7 linked regions of the Homo sapiens genome follow. The protein of the gene in region 3 purifies or fractionates together with the protein of the main gene of each other region. This does not show direct contact. Each region holds a gene or a part of one and is shown on either strand. Other genes may lie near its edges.

The links.
Region 1: the proteins of ARMC5 (region 3) and HNRNPUL1 purify together in Homo sapiens (affinity purification with mass spectrometry, with the first as the bait; one study listed by BioGRID). This does not show direct contact.
Region 2: the proteins of ARMC5 (region 3) and SEPTIN11 purify together in Homo sapiens (affinity purification with mass spectrometry, with the first as the bait; one study listed by BioGRID). This does not show direct contact.
Region 4: the proteins of ARMC5 (region 3) and MAGED2 purify together in Homo sapiens (affinity purification with mass spectrometry, with the first as the bait; one study listed by BioGRID). This does not show direct contact.
Region 5: the proteins of ARMC5 (region 3) and LRRC47 purify together in Homo sapiens (affinity purification with mass spectrometry, with the first as the bait; one study listed by BioGRID). This does not show direct contact.
Region 6: the proteins of ARMC5 (region 3) and TBCD purify together in Homo sapiens (affinity purification with mass spectrometry; one large-scale study listed by BioGRID and IntAct). This does not show direct contact.
Region 7: the proteins of ARMC5 (region 3) and TF purify together in Homo sapiens (affinity purification with mass spectrometry, with the first as the bait; one study listed by BioGRID). This does not show direct contact.

Annotation. Positions count from the first base shown.
Region 1 is NC_000019.10:41,270,872-41,274,371, forward strand, and holds part of HNRNPUL1 (heterogeneous nuclear ribonucleoprotein U-like protein 1), read left to right. Parts: intron 1-1,210; coding exon 1,211-1,364; intron 1,365-3,110; coding exon 3,111-3,184; intron 3,185-3,500.
Region 2 is NC_000004.12:77,012,252-77,015,751, forward strand, and holds part of SEPTIN11 (septin-11), read left to right. Parts: intron 1-2,470; exon of another isoform or gene 2,471-2,604; coding exon 2,605-2,766; exon of another isoform or gene 2,767-3,500. UniProt on the Homo sapiens protein: Filament-forming cytoskeletal GTPase. May play a role in cytokinesis. May play a role in the cytoarchitecture of neurons, including dendritic arborization and dendritic spines, and in GABAergic synaptic connectivity.
Region 3 is NC_000016.10:31,462,501-31,465,082, reverse strand, and holds part of ARMC5 (armadillo repeat-containing protein 5), read right to left. Parts: coding exon 2,166-2,582; intron 690-2,165; coding exon 196-689; coding exon of another isoform or gene 1-195.
Region 4 is NC_000023.11:54,813,630-54,816,515, reverse strand, and holds the end of MAGED2 (melanoma-associated antigen D2), read right to left. Parts: intron 2,147-2,886; exon of another isoform or gene 2,016-2,146; intron 1,856-2,015; coding exon 1,741-1,855; intron 1,269-1,740; coding exon 834-1,268; 3' UTR 826-833; intron 636-825; 3' UTR 501-635; downstream 1-500. UniProt on the Homo sapiens protein: Regulates the expression, localization to the plasma membrane and function of the sodium chloride cotransporters SLC12A1 and SLC12A3, two key components of salt reabsorption in the distal renal tubule.
Region 5 is NC_000001.11:3,789,999-3,793,498, forward strand, and holds part of LRRC47 (leucine-rich repeat-containing protein 47), read right to left. Parts: intron 1-3,500.
Region 6 is NC_000017.11:82,937,065-82,940,564, reverse strand, and holds part of TBCD (tubulin-specific chaperone D), read right to left. Parts: intron 3,295-3,500; coding exon 3,205-3,294; intron 2,517-3,204; coding exon 2,429-2,516; intron 1,199-2,428; coding exon 1,089-1,198; intron 1-1,088.
Region 7 is NC_000003.12:133,749,393-133,752,892, forward strand, and holds part of TF (serotransferrin isoform 1 precursor), read left to right. Parts: intron 1-3,500. UniProt on the Homo sapiens protein: Transferrins are iron binding transport proteins which can bind two Fe(3+) ions in association with the binding of an anion, usually bicarbonate.

The sequences.
Region 1 (3,500 bases), on a different chromosome or scaffold from region 3:
GGTGTAAGCCACTGCGCCTGGCCTCTCCTCCCCATTTTATAGATTGAGGAGTTGGCTTGTCCGATGGCAGAGCTGGGGCTACAACCTAGCATACTTGCTCCCAGGCTAGTCCTCTTGGTTAATAAGCAGCATTCCTTATCATTTGTGCCTTACTATTTGGAAAGCAGGGTCCCACTATTGAGAACTGATGGAGCCCGGACTGACCCCCAGTTTTGTGCTGCTTTTACTGTGTTGTGGCCTCCCAGTGCCTTTTCTTAGTGTATCTGGTTGATTTTGTCTAACGCCATTCTGGTTCATCCACAAAGTTAAATCCCCAGACATTTCTTGTGGGTGGCTCAGAACTTTACTGAATGTAGGTTAAACCGCAGATTTGTGTCAGGCTCTGTGAGACTTGTAGGATCATTCAGCCACAGGAGAATATTTTCTGTGCCGTTATCCACAGACATTCATCAGGAGCCCTGTGTGAGCCCAACCTATTGCTGGGAACCAGGGAAGCTCTCTTCAGGATGGCTGAGCACCATCCCAGCCCTAGAGAACCAGGAGACTTTTCTGAGAGATGTGGTCCACATGCCGAAGCTGGGGAGTGATCCAAAATGGTCTGGGGTTGAATGCAGAAATGAGTAGATGTGAATGAGCTTCAGCATCAGGGATTAATGCTGTGGGAGAAATGAAGGTAGCCTACATCTGTGGTTTGCTCTTGGTTAGGCACTGATTCCTGGAGTCTGCCTGAGACTAGGACTTACCCGTGGTCCACAGCACGGTATCCCATCCTGACTTTCTGTTAATGGTATGACTTAAAGAGGTTATTGCACCTATGGGATGGCTTAACCGGAGTGATTCTGGCCTCTTTTGGTAGGGTAACTAAAGCCCGTAGAGTTAGCTGCAGGACCACAGTACCCTGTTGAATTCATCCTCTCCCCCTCCCTTGCCAGACTGAAGAAGCTTTGTAAGAACTAAGGCAGAGAGGTTCTTTGGGAAGAGAAATTGGAGAATTTAGGGTCATGGTATCTCAGATCCTAACCCTGTTCTCCAGTATGGCCTTCTTGGCTGGCTCAGCAGGCTTCTGTTGAACTCAGCAAGCTGCCTGTGCCCAGCCCTTCATCACTGTAGTGAGGATCCTGCTCACATCTCTCAAGGGAAAAGGGACCAGAAAAGTGATAGCTGGGGAGCTTGCGAGTGTCTTGACCATCTGAATTTGTCTTGACAATAGAAATGAAGACAGAGATGAAGCAAGGAGCACCCACCAGCTTCCTCCCGCCTGAAGCTTCTCAACTCAAGCCAGACAGGCAGCAATTCCAGAGTCGAAAGAGGCCTTATGAAGAAAACCGGGGACGGGGGTACTTTGAGCACCGAGAGGATAGGAGGTGGGTGTATGAGGCAGCAGTCACCCTTGCTCTGGTAGGTTTCTATATCCATAGCCTCGTGCTTGCTGGGGACATTTGCACTAACCTAGAGGGGCTGAGTAAAGATTCCCTCTGCTTTCACACTCTTCCTGTCCCTTCCCGTACTTGCTACCAGATTCAGCTTTCCTAAACTTTTGGTCCTTCCCCCAGTTCCTCCCTTCTTACCTGCAGGGTAACTTCTAAATATCTTAGACTTTCACGCGTGAGATGCCAGCCTGCCTGTTCTGTCCTTTGCCTTACTGCCCCTGCAGTCAGCTGCTTGATACCCGTAATGAAAGAAATATCTGTTTCCTAACACTACTCCCAAATACACATCCTCTTCCCATTCATCCACTCATTCAGTCAGTTCTCACAGTGCTGTCACGAAGTGCCCACTCTTGGGCTGGACACTAGCAACATACAGATGGACAGTGGGTTTTGCCTTCTGTTGTTCCAGTGTGGGGACTCAGACACATACACTAGTAAGCCACAACCTCTGAGGTGAGTAGTCAGGATGCAGGTGAGTTTCAGGAGTTCAGAAGAGGGAGCAGCCTCTGCTTTGGTCATTTCCCTTCCCTAACAAGCCCTTCCCTCCTTTCCCTCCAGACCAAGTCCTTCCCTTCCCTCCTTCCTTCCTTCAGTTCCTGTCTGAAGCCTTTTGCAATTATGAAAACTAGGAATGGCCACTGTACTCATCTGGACTAGTCATCTGACATTCTATTTCCTATCTGGCGGAGTCCACCTTCTAACTAGCTTGTTACTGTCTGAGACAGGGCCTGGATCTCACAGGCTATGATTTAAGTTAGGACATGGATCCCACCTCATATGGGGTTCTTCCACTGCCTCCCACAGAGCAGAAGCCTGGAAGCTACTTACTGATGGAGAGCAAAGGAAGAACACTCGCTCTGATCCTGGGCTGGCAGGGAAAGTTTCCTAGAATGGACTTAACATGTGATGAGCACAGCTCATCCATGTTAGCCCTGGCCTGGCGAGGCCAGAGGGGCCCTCCACCAGAGGGAAGCCTGCTGCTGGGAGAGTCAGCAGCCAAATGGGCATGGGCTCCCCATCTGTGCATGCAGTGCACTGCGACCACCCAGACTGTCCAGGCAGGACCCTGAGTGTTAGATTCTACCTTTCTACCCTTCTTCCTCGTTCCTGTACAGCAGAAACCAACAGTGTTAAGTCCCTTTTTTAGCGTTTTGGTAGGAAAATGAATATCGTTTATAATTTAGGACACTGAAAAAAATGGGTCATCTCAAATTCTTACAGATGTAGGATTTTAAGAAGCCTGGTACATGGATAGATAGTAATTATTGGGATTTATATAGGCTCTTGCACATTCCCCTTCCTGGCCAGCACCCTTTTGGGATACCACAGCCTCCAAACAGTAACAGAGATCAGTGTGGAAGTGGTTGTCAACATGCAGAGGGTATGGATCAGAATCTTTGGGTGTAAAAAAAGAGTGAAAAAATTCCCTAAATGATTCTGATGCCCCCCTTCAGCAGAGCATGCCTTCTTCAATCCCTGTCTCCACCGTAGGAGTTGACGGTCATTGCTCTCCTTGCAAGGATGTAGGGTTTCAGAGTTCTTTTGCCCACCTCTGTGGAAGGAAATGGAGATTCAGGAAGCAGTCTGGAGGCCACTCATAGATTACAGCAGAACATTCATTTTCTTTCCTTTGTGCTCATCCATTGTTCTTGTATGACTTAACCCCTGTTTCTAATACAGGGGCCGCTCTCCTCAGCCTCCTGCTGAAGAGGATGAAGATGACTTTGATGATACCCTTGTTGCTATTGACACCTGTAAGTCTTTGGAGTGTGCATCTAATTCTGCCTTACAGTCAGTATGGGGAAATTGTGGTCTTGACCTTCACCAGAATCCCTGCTGGGCACCGTCCAAAGACATTGTTAGTCCACATGTGAGACACGGCTTAGCTCTGGAGCAAGAGTACTGGTTTGGAGGCAAAAGACCTACTCCCAACTCTAGCAGTGGGACCCTGGGCAAGTCATTCTACTTCTCTGAGCTTCCCTTCAGGAAGGAGTAAATCTGCTGTACTAACCTCAGAGGATTTTCAGGGAGACTCCTCAGTGGATATAGGAGCAATCTGGAAAACCCTGA
Region 2 (3,500 bases), on a different chromosome or scaffold from region 3:
TTTAATTCAAAGTTTACAATGGAATAAAAGGTTAAATTTTTGTCTCTGTGATGATAATGGTCCAGCTTCTTCAATTTTAAAACTGAACTGCACATGTGTGTTCAAGTAAAGCAAAGTCTTAATTTCAGTGTGATCCCTGAGCTTGCCACATTTATACCTTCTCTTTTTCACAACACATGAAGGAAGAGACTGGTAAGTTTGATAAAATTTTGCACCTTACTATATATTAATTAGACTTTCCATTTTGAAATAAATAGAAGACAATACATTCTGAAATAAGGATGAAACAAATGGCAACAAGAACAACCACAAAACTAAGCTGTGGATGGTATTTACCGTTAGATTCAAAACCCCTTTTGCATTCACAGAAAAGTCTTATCAGATGATAAAGCTCTTTAGAGGACTCTGCTGGGTGTTGTTACTATGATTTTATCTAAACAACACTGATAAAGATGCTGTCTCTCCAGAGGGACAAAACAGTGAGAGAATGCTCAGAAGATCAGCCTGTCCCCAAGGCCTCTGTCTCAACTGTCCTTTAAAGGGCTGGAGAGGCTGAAGCCAAGCCAGGCTCCTTTGGCTTCCAGCAGGCACAGACACAGTAGTTTACAGAAAAATCTTCTAATGGCCTGGAAGGATCACTGCAGCTAGAGTACTCTTCGCAGAATAAATAGAAACCCTCCTTCATCCCATCTGATTCCTCAGCTCCCTGGGAGCTGTGCCATTAGCCATGATAGTGGAGAGATCACGGGCAGTGAGGGCCGCTTCCGGGTCTGTTGTGTCCTTGGAAGCAGGGGCAGACCTCCCTGTTCTCAAGAGTGCCCCATTCTCCACAGACATTCTGAAGGAAGTAGAGTGAGGAGGCTTCCTAATCGAGGGCTGAGTATGCAGACCCAGCCGGATAATATCCAACACTATTATTATGTTTAATAGAGTTCATTGAAAACGGAAAAGAAAAAGGCAAAACAGGCACAACTAATAAAAGCAAACAGTCAACCATAAAGCAGGTTAAACTTTCAAAGAAGTGATATTGTTGGAGAGTTGGAGAGCTAGCTAGCATCTGAAAATGATAATATCAAAGTTTTATTTATACAAGTAAAGGGAAGGGTTAAGCAAATGTATGGTCATTTCAGAAAAGACTTTCAAGTCCGGCTAGTGAGGAAAAAGAGGTTTTAAAACTAAATTGCTTGATTTCTCTATCTCCTCTGATCAATTTGGCCAAGAAAGAGTGAATCTCTGCCATTTTGTCTATGTTGACATTAATTAAATACTAAATGTGTATCAAAGATAGCCAATAAGAACAATAGGAAGTTTCTTGTTCCTCTGGTCCTGATCCAAACATTTCCCCCACCATCAATGATGTTTTTCTTAGTCTGCAACTTGCTGGAGGAAGCCCAAGCATGGTGAGCTTAGGAGCAGGTTGAGGAATAGGTTGAAGAATAGGTCTTTCTCTCAGCATGTCATCTCATTCGGGTTTATCAGGATTTCTAATTTGGCCTTTGGATAAAAGGAGAAGCAAAGGCATGCAGATGGGACCTGAACACCTCCCGAAAGACTCTCTGTTCCCTGGCTAGGACAGCTTCCTTACCGAGTCTGTTTTCTCTCACCTGAACTGGGTGAAGATCATAGTTCTATATATCGGATGTCAGTAACGTCTTATTGAAACCTGTGTTTACAGGGATTAGGGGAAAGTTAATCTTAAAATGCGAATTTAAGAAATGTGTCCTGTGCACAGGGCTGGGGGCAGCCGGGGAAAGAATGTCCACATGGGGTTTGGAAGTTGTGCTCTGGGGTATCCTTGGCTCCCTTTCTGGGCTTCCTGCCACTAATGTCAAATTCTGAGTTCTCCCCTGTTCTTTGTAACTGATGCTGTGAAAGTGAGCCTTGCCTTTGGCGCTCGATTTTATTCTGGCATGAAGGAGTAATTTGATGGAATTACTGATTTTCAAAAGAATTAGTTGGTGTGATTTTGAAAAATTTTACAGTGGGCAACACCATTTTTGTTTTGGCTAATACATAGGTTCTCCTCTCAGCAATTTTCAGGTCATCAGAAGAAAGAAAGGATGTTGGGCTGCATAGAACTGAATACTCCACTGCTCTTACAAAAACTTTGCTGTTATACTGTTAGGAGGTGCGAACTCAAGAGCCTAAAGTAGATGGGAGGGGTCTAAAAGGAGTGGTTGGTCATTCAAAGAATAAGTTCCTTTGTTATCACTATTTGTCATAGAAGAGTAACACTTCCTTTACTCTGTAAAGAAAAATGAGGTAGCATAGGAGAGGAAATTACAAGTATACTTTCAGTGCAGGATGGGAGGAAGTAAAAGTGTTTGAATATGGAACTAAAAGTTTATCTCAGGTCTTCTTAATTTTTCACCTAGGTAGAAAGTCTGATTTTCATTATCATCTCTACCCCAAAAAAAAAAAAAATTGTAGGTACATAGGAGGCGTATATATTTATGGGGTACATGAGATGTTTTGATATAAGTAGGAAACATCTTTATTTTTTACAGTAAGGTTTTGCAATTTTTATTTGTTTGCTATGTTTTATTCACTTGTCTATTTTTCTTATGTTGGAATTGTGTAAAAATGGACGTGTCTGTTTTACAGGTGAACATCATTCCAATAATTGCAAAAGCTGACACCATTGCCAAGAATGAACTGCACAAATTCAAGAGTAAGATCATGAGTGAACTGGTCAGCAATGGGGTCCAGATATATCAGTTTCCCACTGATGAAGAAACGGTGGCAGAGATTAACGCAACAATGAGTGTAAGTCCTCAAGTCAAATGGGAACAAGTGATTTTTATGAACGCCTGTCTTAGTAGCAGCATTGTAGAGTGGCTGGAGCACTGGACTGACTAGGAACCTGATGACTTCAGCTGTAGTCCAGCTTTGCCACCACTTCAAGTCATTTAACCAGTCTGCTCCTCCGTTTCTCCATCTGTCAAATGGGAGCTTTAGACAAGATGATCTCAAATTTCCTTCCCACTCTAACAGTTACGATTTCTACAGCAAATCTTGTGAGAAGGAAATGCCAGCCCAGTACCATTTCATAAAAAGCAGCTCAAAGGAAATAGATCTGTGCTTGTTTCTACCAATCTTGGCAGAAATACATTAGCTTGTCCCAATTTTGCTTTGGTGATTGGATCCTGCCCTTCCCTCCTTTCTATTTTCCCTATACTTTTCTAATCATTAGGTAAACTGGCAGTTGAGGATACAATTTCCACATCACAGAGAGGAACTAGTCAGGTGATAAATGATTAAAGTGACAGTGGTTCCCTGTGTGATTGTGATGTAATCCCTCCTGGTGAGTCTCCATCCTGCCGGTTGATGCTCAAGTCTGTTTCACTACTCTTTTGTGTGTCTCACAGCCCATAGCTCAGCTGTGAGCTGCAATGACTCTGCACATCTTTTTTTCCCTTTGGGAATGCATAACATCCATGAAAGCCACATGCTTTGCATATAGTGGAGGCCCAGTGATGGTTGTTGGAATTCAAAGTAGT
Region 3 (2,582 bases):
CAGCAGAACTCTGCCTGTGGGCCCATGGAGGGACTGGAACGCCCTGCTCCCCACCCCACTCTGGTGACAGGTTGTCTGGAGGACGGGCTGGGGAGGACAGGTGAGTGGGAAGGTGAGGTTCTGGGCCCATGGAAGCCATGGGGGAGGATGGGGACTCACATGGGGGCAAGGAGACGGGTGGGTATGGGAACTCACCCAGCTCTCGGTGCCGGCTGTGGAGAGTGGGCCGGGCACGTGGTGCCGGCCAATCGTCAGGCGCCACCCCCAGCACCAGCCAGGCCCGCAGCAGCGCCGCGCCATAGCTGCGCACGAAGGCCTCGAGGCAGGCAGGGTTGCAGGTGAGGCGTGACAGAATGCGCAGTGCACGTGGGCTGGGCGGGCCCGGTGCGCCGGTCACATAGGTCAGCAGGCCGTACAGCGCCGGGCCGGTCACAAGTGCCCCACTTGGGTCAGGGGCCTGGGAAAAGCGCGACAGCAGCAGCAGGGCTGGCCCTTCGCGTCCCCAAGGCTCCTCGATGGCGGCGGCGGGGCTGCGGCCCGGAGTGCGTTGGGTGCGTGGTGCCCGCAGCGAGGTCGGGGTCGGGGCGGGGCTGGCCGGCTCCATGGGCTCCGGCGGACACTGCTCAGGAGACCAGTCGGGGGAGATGTCATCAGGGCCTGTGGCATAGCCCTCGGAGATCAGCCACGACCTGCGGAGGGCAGAAAGGGAAGGAGACTGAACCCAGAGCCAAGGTTAAGGGGCAGAGTCCAAGAGGCGTGAGGCGTCTTTTTTTTTTTTTTTTTTTTTTTTAAAGAAATGTGGTATCCCTCTATAGCCCAGGCTGGAATGCAGTTGTGGGATCCTAGCTCACTGCAGCCTTGAACTCCTGAGCTCAAGTGATCCTCCCACCTCAGCCTCCCAAGTAGCTGGCACTACAGCTGTGTGCACCACACTCAGCTAATTTTTTAAATGTTTTGTAGAGATGGGTCTCGCTATGTTGCCCAGGCTGGTCTCGGACTCCTGTGCTCAAGCGATCCTCCTGCCTTGGCCTCCCAAGGTGCTAGGATTACAGGCGTGAGCCACTGCATGAGCTAAAAGCTGTCTTGGAGGGAGGTAAAGCCAGGGGAGAGAAGGAGGGCGGAGAAAGGGGAGAAACGGAAGTGAGAGGGGGATACGACTAAAACCTCATTCAGTAATTACTGATGCCTGTCACGTGCCAAGCCGTTCTTTAGGTGCTGGGTAGAAGCACTGAACAAAGTGCCTGTCCCCCTGGAGTTTATGTTCCAGTGAGAAGAAGCAGACAAGAAGTAAGAGTACCATGAGTTATGTTAGTGTGGGGCTAGTGTAGAGTACAGGGGTCATGGAGAAAATAAAAAGGAAATAGGAAGCGCTGGGGGCTGGGCATGGTGGCTCACATCTGTAATCCCTACACTTTGGGAGGCTGAGCCAGGAGGGTCACTGGAAGCCAAGAGTTCAAGACCAGCCTGGGCAACAAAGCGAGATCCCCAACGCTAATGTTTAAAAAAAAATAAAGAGTTCCTCAGCTTTCCTGTGATGCTTCAGCTCATGAGTGATGGTAAGAGAGTAAGAACTTGGACTCCAGAGCCCACCATCTTAACCAGCGTATATCCCACCTCCCAGTGAACTTGTCTGGGGCCCAAAGTTCAAAGGTGCTGGCGTGGAACCAAGGTTAAAAGGTAGATCCAGCCAGTGCAGTGGCTCATGCCTGTAATCCCAGGACTTTAGGAGGCTGAGGCGGGTGGATCACCTGAGGTCAGGAGTTCGAGACCAGGCTGGCCAACATGGTGAAACCTTGTCTCTATTAAAAATACAAAAATTAGCTGGGAGTGGTGGCCGGCACCTGTAATCCCAGCTACTCGGGAGGCTGAGGCAGGAGAACTGCTTGAACCAAGGAGGTAGAGGTTGCAGTGAGTGGAGATGGCACCACTGCATTCCAGCCTAGGTGACAGAGTGAGACTCTGTCTCGAAAAAAAAAAAGGTAGACTCAGGGGAGTGGAGTGTGTTAAATAGGAACTGGCAGGTGGTCGTGTGGGAATCAGGAGTCTGGGTTATAAAAGTCTTATTCAGACAGAATAGGGGTGGAGGTAGTGAAGAGGACCAAGACAGACACAAACCCCACATCACTGCACTGCTCACCCTCCCAAGCCCTGAGGCAGGGACTCACCTGAGGCTCCGGAAGCTTCCACCCTGTGCCCGCTCAGGGGTCCTCTCCTCAGGAAAGTCCCAGGAAGCAGCTTCTCTTCCCTCTTCTTCCTCCTCACCAGCCTCACCACACAGCTGCCCAGCCAGGAGAGGCACAAGTCCCAGAGCCTGCAGCCGGCCCAGGGCCCCAGTGTCATACAGAAACCCCACAAGGGCAGCCACAATACGAGGGTGCCATGCGCTTGCACGAGGGTCCCGCAGCAGGCCCATCAGTAGATCCAAGCCACCAGCATCCCGCAGTCGGGCCCGGTTGATGGCCTCACGACATAGGAGGCACACAGCCCGCACCAGGGGCTGCTGGGAGGTTGGGCTAGCTCCATTAGGATCCCGGCGCTGCCGGAGCTCATCTACCAGCACCTCCACGCCACCAGCATTGCCC
Region 4 (2,886 bases), on a different chromosome or scaffold from region 3:
ACTTCTCCCTCTCCGTTGACTCCTCCCTACTCAAGTCTCTCTCTCCTTCCCCAAGAAAATGCTCCCTTGTTCCTGTATCTCCATTTAGCTCTGTACCCCTCTCTCTCCTCATTCAAATTTCTCAAAAAGGGATTCTATATTTGATGTCCAGTCTCCTCTACTTACACTTTCTGCTCTAGACTTGCCGACCTCAAGCCTCTCCTTCAAAGTGTGTCCTCTGTAACTACAATCTCTTGAACTCCACCCCACTAAAATCCCACCACCCTGAAGGCTAGACGTGATGCCCAATCTATCCCAGAAAGGTGTGTTAATCTCGCTCCTGGGAATCCAACAATTAGACGTGAGGCCCAATCTATCCCAGAAAGGTGTGTTAATCTCGCTCCTGGGAATCCAACAATATCACCTCAAACTAAACACAGACTGAGGTGGAAACTTTCCCAACTCACTGATTTTTAAATGTGATACCAAAATGTGACAGCCCGCCAAAAAAAGCAATAAACTCAGAAATGGCAAATAGATTTAATGCAGAGTGTCAACTTCAATTGATTGATAGTGGCTGCCTAGAGTGCTGTGTTGAGTAGGTTTCTGAGGATGCACCCTGGCTTGAAGAGAAAGACTGGCAGGATTAACAATATCTGAAAACACAAGTAAGAGAAAATAAAAGGGTCAATTGACATCCAGCAAACAGAAAGGAATAAAATGCCAAAAGCAGTGTCTTGGCACACTCTCCACATCATTCTCCAACTTGGGCCTTCCTAGAATCATCCAGCTCCTCATCCCAGCCCCATAAGCCCCAGATGTCCCCACTGAAACCAAGGCAGATACCTAAAATCTCACTTGTAGGAGAAACCACAGGCACCAGAGCTGCCACTGGTGCTGGCACCAGCTCCACCAAGGCCAGCGAAGAGCCCAAATGTGAGAGTGGCGGTCAGGCTGGCACCAGCACTGAAGCCACCACTGGTGCTGGCACTGGCACTGGCACTGTTATTGGTACTGGTACTGGCACCAGTGCTGGCACTGCCACTCTCTTGGGCTTTGGCTTTAGCTTCTGCTCCCGCCTGGATCCGGGCTTTGGCCCAGGGTCCGATATCAGCTTCGTCCCAGTTGCAGGGCCCGGCAGCATTCTCCGAGCCGAGCCCAATGCCCATTCGAGCTCTAATCTCGGCCCTAGCCTTGGCTTCAGCTGCAGCCTCAGCTGCAGCCTTCAAATCCGCTTCCATCGCCTCTCGGTACTGAGCTGCCCATTCCTTGGGATCCTTCTTTTGTACCTGAAACAAAAATAACCATCAGAAGGAGCATAGAGGGATTAAGCCATAGTAATAATACAGTATTACTATGTAAATAACCATCAGAAGGAGCATAAGAGGATTAAGCATCTACCTTTATGCTAGGCACTATGCTACATGCTTAGTATAAAAAGATAATAGTAATAATACAGTATTACCAGTAATTATGCACCTAATATTCCATCCCTGCTCTGACACTTCCTAGCCCCATGACTTTGGACATGTCACCTACCAACCTTTCTGGGCCTCGGTTTTCTCATCTGTAACAGGGCAATGACATATCAGGTTGTAAGGCTTAAATGATTCAGATAAAGTGCCTGTTACAGTGTTTTGACAATTAACAGAAGCACCAAAACATTCAGATTTGAACTGCAGGCTGCTCTGCACACAGCCTGCCCCAGCCAGGGGCACCCCATGCTCTTGACTTGCCAAGCTCAAGGAGCTCTCCAATTACCTTGCAGGCAAACTTGAGGACTTTCATCTTGCTGGTCTCATAGTAAGAGCGCAGGCCCCAGAAGAACTCATATTCAGGGGGATTGCTATTGGGGACTCTGGCATAGTCCAGGTACCTTGGAAAGAGAGGTTCAAAGCCTTTATTTCTAAGACCATTCATGGCCTACCCATGCATAGACTGGACAGGCTCCAGATGGCAACATCATCCACTAATTACTACAGTCTTTCTTCCAATATTGAGCCCTGTCCCACTGGTCTTGCCCAGAAGCCACATAGAGGTGTTGGGGGACGTTTGTTCATAGGGAAGCCACAAGTTTGACGCCCTCATCACAATGACCCCAGATTCCTGTTGGGTGTGTTGTAAACAGAGGAGCCATTCTTTGGGCCCCCTGCTCTGAGCACACCCCACTGCAAGTGTCTTGGCCTCAGCCTGGCCAAGCCCAGAAAGGTCCACCACAGAAAATGACCAGAAAGACTACAGAGGAAGAACAGCCAATAGCAGCATGCTTCACACATGCTGAATTCCTGACCCTTTGTGTGTGTTTCTGTGTGCACATGCGTGTGGCTGTGTGAGTGTTTGCATGTCCTCCAAGGACCAAGGATAGGTGAGCTTTGGCCAGAAATTCAAGAGGACTGGGCTCCAGGCCCATACCAGCTGTGGGCCATGCTCAGATCTCCCTTCTCGGAGCCCCAGGTCCCTCAACTGTAAAACGGGGATGGGATGACAGCTGCAGGGTAGTTATGAAAATGAAATGAGATGTACAAGTCAACTCCCCAGCATGGTACCTGGTTGCCTGAAGCTACCATTCTATGTCATTTCTTTACGGAAATTAATTTCTATGAAGCTCTAGTTAGCAGAATAAAAAGAACTAAGGCTTTGGAGCCAAGTTCTAAACATAACTCTTCTACTTGCTACCTGTGTAACCCTGACCAAATGACTTCACCTCTCTAAACCTCAGTTTCTGCATACGTACAATGATGGTAATGATAATCCCTCCCTTGCAGAACTGGTCTCAAGACAAATGTTGAGGTATATGTAACAGATCAGGAAACATGTGCTGCTCCTGTTTCCCATCACCGCCCAAGGAATAATCCCACCTGCATACATGCAAATATGCAAATACATACACACATAGACACATGCATC
Region 5 (3,500 bases), on a different chromosome or scaffold from region 3:
TGGCTAGGGGTCCTCCTGACACCTGATGGGATGAAATGCCGTCACCTGTCACCCGGAGCTGACACTCTACTGCAGGAAACACAACCCTCGCAGTGGCTAAGCTGACGGCAGCAACGTGGGTCCTGACTCTGGCCTGGCATACCGGCTGCCTTCCGGGCCCATGGCTTTTGCAGGGGACCTGCTGCCGGGGAAGGATCCTAACTTCATGGTGGTGACAGGCTGACATAAACCAACCCAATAAGGAGCGCCAGCCCCTGAGTGAGCCCCACTCCCTCCGGCAGCAACTGAGAAACTCGGAAGCTGGGGGAGAGCCTTTGGCTTCAGGAGGGTTCACATTGAGGCTGAACTCCCCTGTGCAGCTTGGCCTTGGGAGGGGAGTGGCCCAGGGCCTGAAAGGATGTCTTTACTAAGGCACCGTCCTGCCCACATCAGCTGTTCAGGTAACATCTGTCCCATCCATCCCTCATTCCCACACGGACACCACACGCCTGCGTGATGGCCACTTACAATGCAGTCAGGAGAGGTGTGACGTGCCCCCATCCTCGGCTCACCACAGCACTGCCAGCTGAGCCCCACGGGCCACAGCAGCGGGAAGCAGCCAGGGAGGGCCGGCCGGGTGCTCTCAGGTCTCAGCAAGCCACGTGGCTCTGAGGCCAGGACACTGGGGAAGCCAGGCTCCCACGCAGGCAGAGCTACTGCTGAGGCCATAGGACAGCAGAGGCCTCGTCCCCAGTGGCTGGGAGGAAAGAGGGTCAGGGCCTTTGCACTGCAGGTCCCAGCCCAGGCTTGGGGGTGCTCCCTGGGGAATGGCTGTGGGGATGGGCACTAGGAGCCAGGCCGAGCTGCTTCCATTTGCAGTCTCGCCCCTCTGGGGAGGGAAAGGACAGGCAGAAGCTCTGTGCTGTTATTTTGGCGGCCCCTAAAGAGCCAGTCCTCCCAAAGAACCGGAACTGGGCTCGCACTTAGTTAACCCACGGAACGCAGGAAAGTGGCAGGAAGCATGTTCCAGGTTGATGCCTGAAGAAGGGCTGGCAGCTGCTGCTTTTGTACTGAGGAGCCCTGAGCCCTGTGAAAGAAGGGGAGGGAGAGGCCCCGAGACGACACACGGAGAAGCCCACCCACCCCGGCAGCCCAGCCCTGAGCCCACGCCAGCTGAGCACAGCCACGCGAGCGACCAGCAGCAAGAGCTGCAGCACTGTCCACTGTTCACTGTCCACTGTCTGGCGGAGCCAGCCCAGAGCGCAGAGCCGCTGCTGCTTTAAGCCTCGTGGTTTCGGAGTCAAGCAGCCACAATGACCAGCACTACCTCCCCCATCTCTTTCCCTCTTCGTGTACTGCGTTACCCTCCCAGTCTTCCTACAGAGGAGCAAAGAGCCTTCAAGACCCAACGGCACGCAGCCACAGAGAGACAGGGCTGGAGCCCGTGCCTTCTGTTTTTTTTCCTTTCCTCCCCCTTCTTTCTCTCCTTTTTTCTTGAGACGAAGTTTCACTCTTATTGCCCAGACTGGAGTGCAACAGCACCATCTTGGCTCACCGAAACCTCCGCCTCCCAGGTTCAAGCAATTCTCCTGCCTCAGCTTCCCGAGTAGCTGGGATTACAGGCATGCGCCACCACGCCCGGCTAATTTTGTATTTTTAGTAGAGACGGGGTTTCTCCATGTTGGTCAGGCTGGTCTTCAACTCCCAACCTCAGGTGATCCGCCCGCCTCAGCCTCCCAAAGTGCTGGGATAATAGGCATGAGCCACCGCACCCGGCCTCTCTCTCCTTTCTTTAAGACAGGGTCTAGCTCTGTTGCCCAGGCTGGAGTGCAGTGGTGTGATCATGGCTCACTGCAGCCTCAACCTCCCAGGTTTAAGCGTTCACCCCACCTCAGCCTCCTGAGTAGCTGGGACTACAGGTGCACACCACCACACCCAGCTAATTTTTGTATTTTTTATAGAGACAGGTTTTCACCATGTTGCCCAGGCTGGTCTCAAACTCCTGGGCTCAAGTGATCCGCCCGCCTCAGCCTCCTGAAGGGCTGGGATGCCAGGCATGAACCACTGTGCCCAGCCTGCCTTCTGTTTCTGAGCTCAGTTTTCTGGTTTTCTACACTCCCCATCTCCCCACAGCACCAGGAAGGACATCAAATGCATTTGCCTTTGTGTGCGAAATTCCAATGTGCGTAGCTACATTGCTGGGCATAGTTCTGGTAGCCATTCCTCAGAAAGGTACCCAAAAGGACATCTGAGTGCAACAAGGGATTCCAATAGCTCTTGCATGACCCTCCAAGAAACAGGTCTCCTGATAGAGAGCCACTGGACGCCTAAAATTTACGAACAGAATGGCCCAGGGGAAAGGGAACTTGGCCACCTCTTTTGGGATTTAGAAAACAAGACACACTCTTTGACTTGAATGACATTGTTTTGGGCACCATAAAGAGGAATGCTTTACCAGGCAGGTGCTACAGAGAGCTGGACGCACACTTTTTTTTTTTTTTGAGACGCAGTCTCACTTTCTCACCCAGGCTGGAGTGCAGTGGTGCAATCTCGGTTCACTGCAACCTCTGCCTCCCGGGTTCAAGCGATTCTCCTGCCTCGGCCTCCCGAGTAGCTGGGACTACAGGCATGCACCACCACACCCAGCTAATTTTTGTATTTTTAGTAGAAACGGGGTTTCACCATGTTGGCCAGGATGGTCTCGATCTCTTGACCTCGTGATTCGCCCGCCTTGGCCTCCTAAAGTGCTGGGATAACAAGCGTGGGCCTGGCCCACAACACTTTTAAGAACTTGAATACTGAAAGACATCTATGAATTTGAAGAGAAATATTGCAACTGACTGGACACTTACATGATGTAAGGCACAATGTTAAGATACATGCCTAGTACATCAACACTCTGGAAAACCAAAAGTATCTGTCAGGTGGGAAGGTGGGAGTAGACCATGCTGTATCCAACATCACACCTTAGTCCTAGAGGGATGCCTACAGCCCTGAGGACCAAGGAAAATGCCAGTGAACTCGCCTCTTCCAGGAAATGCCAATGAAACCACCTTTGCAAAAACTGTAACAGTGAGAAAATTATGGTGGTGAAAGAGATCTGATCTAACCAATCCCCATCTTTGGCCTTCCAACTACCTTTTTTTTTTTTTAAATGGAGTTTTGCTCTTGTTGCCCAGGCTGGAGTGCAATGGTATCATCTTGGCTCATTGCAACCTCCGCCTCCCGGGTTTAAGCGATTCTCCTGCCTTGGCTTCCTGAGTAGCTAGGATTACAGGCATGTGCCACCATGCCCAGCTAGAGATGGGTTTCTCCATGTTGGTCAGGCTGGTTTAGAACTCCCGACCTCAGGTGATCCGCCTGCCTCAGCCTCCCAAACTGCTGGGATTACAGGCAGGAGCCACCGCGCCTGGCCCTTCAAACTACCTTTAATTATTCCTGGGCTTGGGCCAAGCTAACTTTGGGAGACATTTGTAATTTAAATGATAATACTCCTTCCGTAAAACTCAACTGCCTTTGTA
Region 6 (3,500 bases), on a different chromosome or scaffold from region 3:
GCCACAGCGGCTGCCTGGTGCGTGAGCTCTATGGGAACCCAGCCCTGTTGGAAGGTCACTGTTCCGAGGAGACACCTAGGGAACGTCACCTACGTCCTTGCTGGATTCAACAAGGGGCGTGGACCCCACAGACCTGTAGCAACGCACCGGGATCAGCACGGAGGCCCTCACAGTCGGCACTCAAAACAGAGCAGCATCCACAGGCAGGACACCTGGGACTCCACCACCCCGGGTATGCCATGTGGACACCCACACAGCCTCTGGTTGCTTCAGTCCTGATCTCCAACACGGGGTGACGAGACTGCTCCCCTTTTAGAAGTGTGTGTGTGTGTGTGTGTGTGTGCGCGCGTGCAAGTGAGCATGTGTGTGAGCCAGCATGGGTGCCCATGCCCATATGTGTAAGACACCATCACTGCTGTTCCCAGGAACATACCGGTTGGCCCAGGACACCTGAGCCTGCACTTTCCCCACTCTGCTCTCATTCAGACCCTCCCACCCCCAACTCAATACACACATCTTTCAAAACCGCCATTCTACTCCACCCATGGTAAAGAAGCCAGCCCATGTTGCAGAAACTGTGCCTGCCAAAGTAAACGTGGAGAGTGGCACTATGGCCTCCTGAGGGCCTCATGGCCCTGAGGAAGGGGGTGGACATCAGAGCAGAGGCGTGGGGAGAGCTTTTCTTATTTCCGCCTGTGCCTCTTGATTTCCAACAGGTGCTCACACGGCCTATTCCAAGAGAACTTTAGAGAGGTCTGGGGCAGCAGCACCTGCCAGGCCTTCAGTGCCCTCTGCTCCACAGGCCACCAGACACAGCCTTGTGGTACAGGTGCCCGCTCCCCTGGTGGGATGGATGGCTTTGCTGTGTTCCTGACACCTGACACTGTTTGGGGACAGGGCGGTTGAGAAGAGGTTTCGGCTACAGCAGCACGGCTGCCTTGTAAAACCTAAGCAGAGGATGTGGAGACCTGGGAACCCTCTTTCCTCCTCCTATCAGAGGGTTTTGGGAGAGACGAGTAGACACGGTGGGGACAGGAAGAGGGGCGGTGCCAGGCCCAGGTGGCCGTGCAGGAAGGGCCTTCACTCACCACGCAGTGTCACTGAGCACAGTCACCACCTCGTCCAGCACATCCGCGCCCACGACGTCACTGTAGGTGAGCAATGTCTCGTACACCTGGCTGGCCGTGGTCTTCCGGATCTGGGACAGGGATGCAGTGCATTTGCCGGAGGGAAGCGCCACCGCCCCACCCCGGAGAGACGACAGGACCCAGGCCAGGGAGCCCCGTCAGTGGAAGGCGTCAGGAGGAGGACGCTGACCCTGCATCCCATCCCAGCCACAGCAGGGCTGCAACCAAGAGGAGGTGCCTTCCAGGCCCATTAACCACCTCCTCCCTCCACAGACACACAGCTAGCTGCAGGATCCCAGCAGTGAAGATGACATCATTCTTGTTTAAATGCTTTATTAACCAACCTGCTCCCTCACCAGAGAAGCAATCTCGCCTGCTCTCTATTAACTAACCTGCTCCCTCACCAGAGAAGCAATCTCGCCTGCTATTAACCAACCTGCTCCCTCACCAGAGAAGCAATCTCGCCTGCTCTCTTTTCATCAGAGAAGCACTCTCACCTGCTCTCTATTAACCAACCTGCTACCTCACCAGAGAAGCAATCTCGCCCGCTATCTATTAACCAACCTGCTCCCTCACCAGAGAAGCAATCTCACCTGCTCTCTTTTCACCAGGGAAGCAATCTCGCCTGCTCTCTTTTCATCAGGGAAGCAATCTCGCCTGCTCTCTTTTCATCAGGGAAGCAATCTCGCCTGCTCTCTTTTTGAGTGGTGCCCTGGTCATCATGTCTCACTGCGCTGGTGGTCTGAGCCCCGGGCCCACCCTGGAGGTGCTGAGTCGGCAGCACAGGGCCCAAGAGCTGCACTGCTGAAGCCCCAGAGGTGCCAAGCCTGAGGGTCCGGCACCCCACTTCGAGAACCACCATACAACATGAAGTTACTTTTGCCTTTTAGGAAAATGTCACCTTTGTATCATCTGAGGTTTTTTTTGCAGCCAGGAGAAAAGAAATCCTAGAAATCTAATAGCCGGGGAGTGCTGGGGATGAAGGGCACTGCCCCTAGGTGTGGCTGAACCACTTCAGCCTGGGTCCTTCTGGAAGCTCCTGAGCCAGATCCCACCGCCAGGTCACCCCTCAATGTATGTCCATAGAAACGCCAGCCGGACAGCCCGTCCTTAAAGCCAGAACAGTGGCGTCCAGAGCCCCTTGGCAGCCGCGTGCCTGTGACGCGTCGTCACCCAGGCGCGTTAACGAGAGGGGCTCGGCTGGAAAGCACACCAACACAACAGTGCCAGCGAAGGCCTTCTTGTCACTGAGGGGCTTGTGTCCACACGGCAAACACACGTGAGCAGGGGCAGGCACTCACCAGCGGGAAACGGTGGCAGAGGAGCAGACACAGCTGCAGGAGGGCCTGCCTCCTCACGTCGCCGGGGAACTGCACCATCTCGCAGAACCTGCCGGGAGCAGCACATGGCTCCAGGTGAGCCCCACCCCGCGCAGGCCAACCCCAGCAAACCCCGGACCCAAAGGCCCATGCAGAGACCTGGGCAGAGCAGATCCGTGAGCACAGTGCGGGCCTGGGGCCCCAAGCCGGAGGTGTGTGTGTGCGTACATCTGCACTGTGCCTACACACACGAGTGTCGCACTTGGAAAGTCACTGTGGGAAGTGAGGACGCCTCACAGAGGATCTCCTGCAGGGCCGCTCGCCCTGCCATGAGGACCCCCACCTCAAGGAGCCACAGAGCAGCCAAGGTGCCTATCGCTGGCTGGCGCACCTGCCCAGTGTCCACCTGAGCGCCGCAGAGCAAGGCACTCAACAGCGACCCCCAGGGCACACAGGAGAATCGGGGAGGCAGCCCCTGACCACGCAGCTCCTTTCCGGAGCCTCCCCTCCCGCCAGGGCAGAGCGCGAGGGCAGCAGAGGCAGAGCTCGCCTGTTCCCGCGGGAACTCCCTCCACCAGCACCTGGGCTGCCTCACCTCCCATTGCGACTGCTTTGAACATTGGAATGCACGATCTTAGGTTAGCTTGAGGAGTAACACTAACTGCTCCTCTCCCGCCTGGAGCCGTGGACTCCTGCCCTCAGCCAAGGGAGGCTGCGCCCTGCCATTCCGTCTAAGGCCAGCAGCACTTGAAACTCACACTGCGATGCCTGACAGGAGCTTCTGGATATCTTTTGAATTCTTGATTTCTTTCTTACAGAGCGCAAGCAACTTCACAGCAAAGGGGTGGCTGGAAGAACAACACACACTTTAGAGATGAGCTTTCACAGGCAGCCCCGGGATGCACACTTTTTCTGTCTCAAAGAAGGTCAACTCCGTCCTCCCAGTGGCTCAGTCCAAGAAGCCTGCAGCCCTGAGGCCCCTCTGCCAGCAAGTCCGCTGGTCCCCATCCCAATACCTCCACAGGCCGGCCTGGTCCCTAGCGGCTGTGCCACC
Region 7 (3,500 bases), on a different chromosome or scaffold from region 3:
GCTGCAGTGGTGAATTAAACACATTGGTCCTTACCCTCAGGGAGCTCATGGGCTAGTCAGGAGAGCAGAAAAACACACGAATAAGTAAACTACTAATTCCAAAATGTGGGGATGTACAATGGAGGGAAAAAGGAGAGTGTTCTGACAGGGACTCACAGAAAAACCTGCTTTGTCCTGGGTGGTCAGAGACCATCTCTCTGAGAGAGATGTAATGAAGGACTGAGCCTGGGTGGGCTCCAGTGTAAAATACACCAGGCAGCAAACAAGAGCATATGCAAAGGGCCTGAGGCAGAGCAGAGTGGGCTTATTTAAGTTGCTAGTGGGAGGCCAGGGTGATGGGAGCTGTCAAAGATAAGCACAGCCAGATATTAGTTTAGGCAGTGACAATAGGTTTCATTCAGTAACTGCTGACAGTGGGGGAAAGAGCTAGGCTCCATTCTGATTTGTGCAGTGGTGATGTGAGCATTTTAAAGGGAGAATGAGGGAGGGGAGAACGCAGGGCTCTGTAGAGTCAGAGAAGTAAAAAGGTAGAAAGGGCTGGTCAGTGTAAATGTGAGGAGGCCAGCTGTGTCTGATAGCTGGCAGTTCTCTCGATTAGGACTCTATTCTCCCGCAGAGACTGCGAGACAGACACTCTATCCATCCTGATGATTGTGTTGCAAAGGAATGGCTCTCAGTCCTTGAGAGAGATGCTTGTGAGTTTCAAGAGATACATATTCACAGTTTTAAGTCCTTTTTAGTAAATTCTCTTGGAAAGGGAGGTCAGGGGCCTATCATCAGTTGTGTGTTGAGTAGAAGAAACAGGTACATTTTCCTGGCAGCACTGAGTTTTCTCAGGCAAGCACTTTAAGGGGAACCGGGCCATCCTAGGGACACAGATTTGTTCTGCTAGGAGCCATGCCAGAGTCTGGTCAGGTCTCTTAGTGCAGAGGTTTGGACAGATGTGTCAAGTGTGGGAAATTCTACAGTTCTCAGCACAAAGCAAGCAGTAGGTTAGCCGAAGGGAAAAGGTGGAAGAAACATCCAGATGCAGCCTGGCTTCCCTCAATCCCCGCGCTGGGGTTTTCCGTGTCTTTCTGCTGGCTTCCCCTTGGCTTCCCTCCAGCCTTCTCTCTGTAGCTTTCCCTCTTCTGGGTTTGGTTATTTTGACTTGTGAGAGCTTGCTTGATTATAATCCTGTCCCTCCCAGCTGGCGCAGGTTCCCCTGGGAACCCTGCAGCTCTAGGGCTGGACGCTGTGTTTTAGGCCTTAGCTCTTTGGCTCCCTGAGCCCCCGAGGCACCAGTGATTTCTTGGTGTCTTGGCAAAGAAAGACCAGGTTCCTGACCACTCTCCCAACCCCACTGCAATGGGCAAAGCTCTCGTTTGTTTGCTTCATTTTTTAAAAAATATATATATATTTTATTATACTTTAAGTTCTAGGGTACAAGTGCACAACATGCAGGTTTGTTACATATGTACACATGTGCCATGTTGGTGTGCTGCACCCTGTTTGCTTCATTTTTATTCAACAATGTGAGGACTGGGGAAGGGAAGGTGTTTGCAGATTAAACAAAACCACGAAGTGTGTTTCATATATAAGGTCTAGTTGTTGTGGAACAGAAAGGCCCATGATGTCTGTTAATTTTGTTTTGTATTGTGGTATATTAAAAATATGTTTTACAACCCAAATATCCATTGATGAGTGAATAGATAAATAAAATGTGGTAAACACAAATGATGAAATATTTTTAGCCTTAAAAATAAATGAAACTCTGATATATGCTACACTGAGATGAACCTTGAAAACATAAGTGAAGCAAGCTAGATACAAAAGGACAAATATTGTAAGATTCCACTTTTTTTTTTTTTTTTTTTTTGAGACGGAGTTTCGCTCTGTCGCCCAGGCTGGAGTGCAGTGGCGCGATCTCGACTCACTGCAAGCTCCGCCTCCCGGGTTCACGCCATTCTCCTGCCTCAGCCTCCCGTGTAGCTGGGACTACAGGCGCGCGCCACCATGCCCGGCTAATTTTTGTATTTTTAGTAGAGACGGGGTTTCACCGTGTTAGCCAGTATGGTCTCGATCTCCTGACCTCGTGATCCGCCCGTCTCGGCCTCCCAAAGTTCCACTTTTATGAAGTATCTAGAATAGTCAAATTTATAGAAACAGAAAGTAGCATAATGACTACCAGGGGCTGGAGTGGGGGAGAAATAGGAGGTAATTGTTTAATGTGTAAAGAGTTTCAGTTTCTGGAGATGGATAGATGTGATGGCTATAAAACAACGTGAATGCATGTACTTAATGCCACTAAAATGTACACTTGAAAATGGTTAAAATTGGCTGGGTGCGGTGGCTCACGCCTGTAATCCCAGCACTTTGGGAGGCCGAGGCGGGTGGATCACCTGAGGTCAGGAGTTTGAGACCAGCCTGGCCAACATGGTGAAACCCCATCTCTACTAAAAAAAATACAAAAATTAGCCGGGTGTGATGGCAGGCGCCTTAATCCCAGCTACTTGGGAGGCAGAGGCAGGAGAATCGTTTGAACCCTGGAGGCAGAGGTTACAGTGAGCCGAGATTGAGCCATTGCACTCAAGCCTGAGGGACAAGAGCGAGACTGCTGATATAGTTTGTCTTACAACATATTTTATTTCATTTAGAAATACTATTGTCTTATTACTTGATTGTAACACAACAAAGTTCATGGAACTATAGCTTTTGCTTTGTAATTTTTTTTTTTTTTTTTGAGAGTCTTGCTCTGTCACCTAGGCTAGAGTGCAGTGGTACAATCTCGGCTCACTGCAACCTCTGCATCCCAGGTTCAAGCGATTCTCCTGCCTCAGCTTCCCAAGTGGCTGGTATTACAGGCATGTGCCACCAAGCCCAGCTAATTTTTGTTTGTTTGTTTTGGTAGAGACAGTGTTTCACCATATTGGCTAGGCTGGTCTCGAACTCCTAACCTCAGGTGATCCACTTGCCTAGGCTTCCCAAAGTGCTGGAAGTACAAGGTATGAGCCACTATACCTGGCCTGCTTTGTAATTTGATCAATAAGAAATCTTCATAGAGAACTGGCAAGGGCTTCTGGAAAAATCATTTTGATTAAAGACATTTAAAACAAAAAAGGAGTAAAACTATGTGTTTAAGTGTCTAAATAAAAGATGGTTGGGCTCACTTTAAGGATTTACATAAAAAGAAAATAAATTATAGATCTAGTAAGAAGGCAGCTATAATATTTCAAGGGACCTGTTGATGTAAAGATGAGGGCTTACAGAAGCACAAAGTCAAAAAGGAACATAACCTGAAGTAACAGTGTAATGATAAGAAATAAACCCGGAATGTCTGCACTGAAATCCCAGCTCCATGACTTACTGGCTATGTGGCCCAGGGAAGTGACTTAACCTTTCTGTGCCTCATATTTCTCACTTGTAAAATGGAGCTGAGAGAGAAAGAGAGATGAGCTGCCCATGTGTTGGAGTAGACAATTATACCAGAGATGAGCAAAAATGGAAATAATAATCAAGCT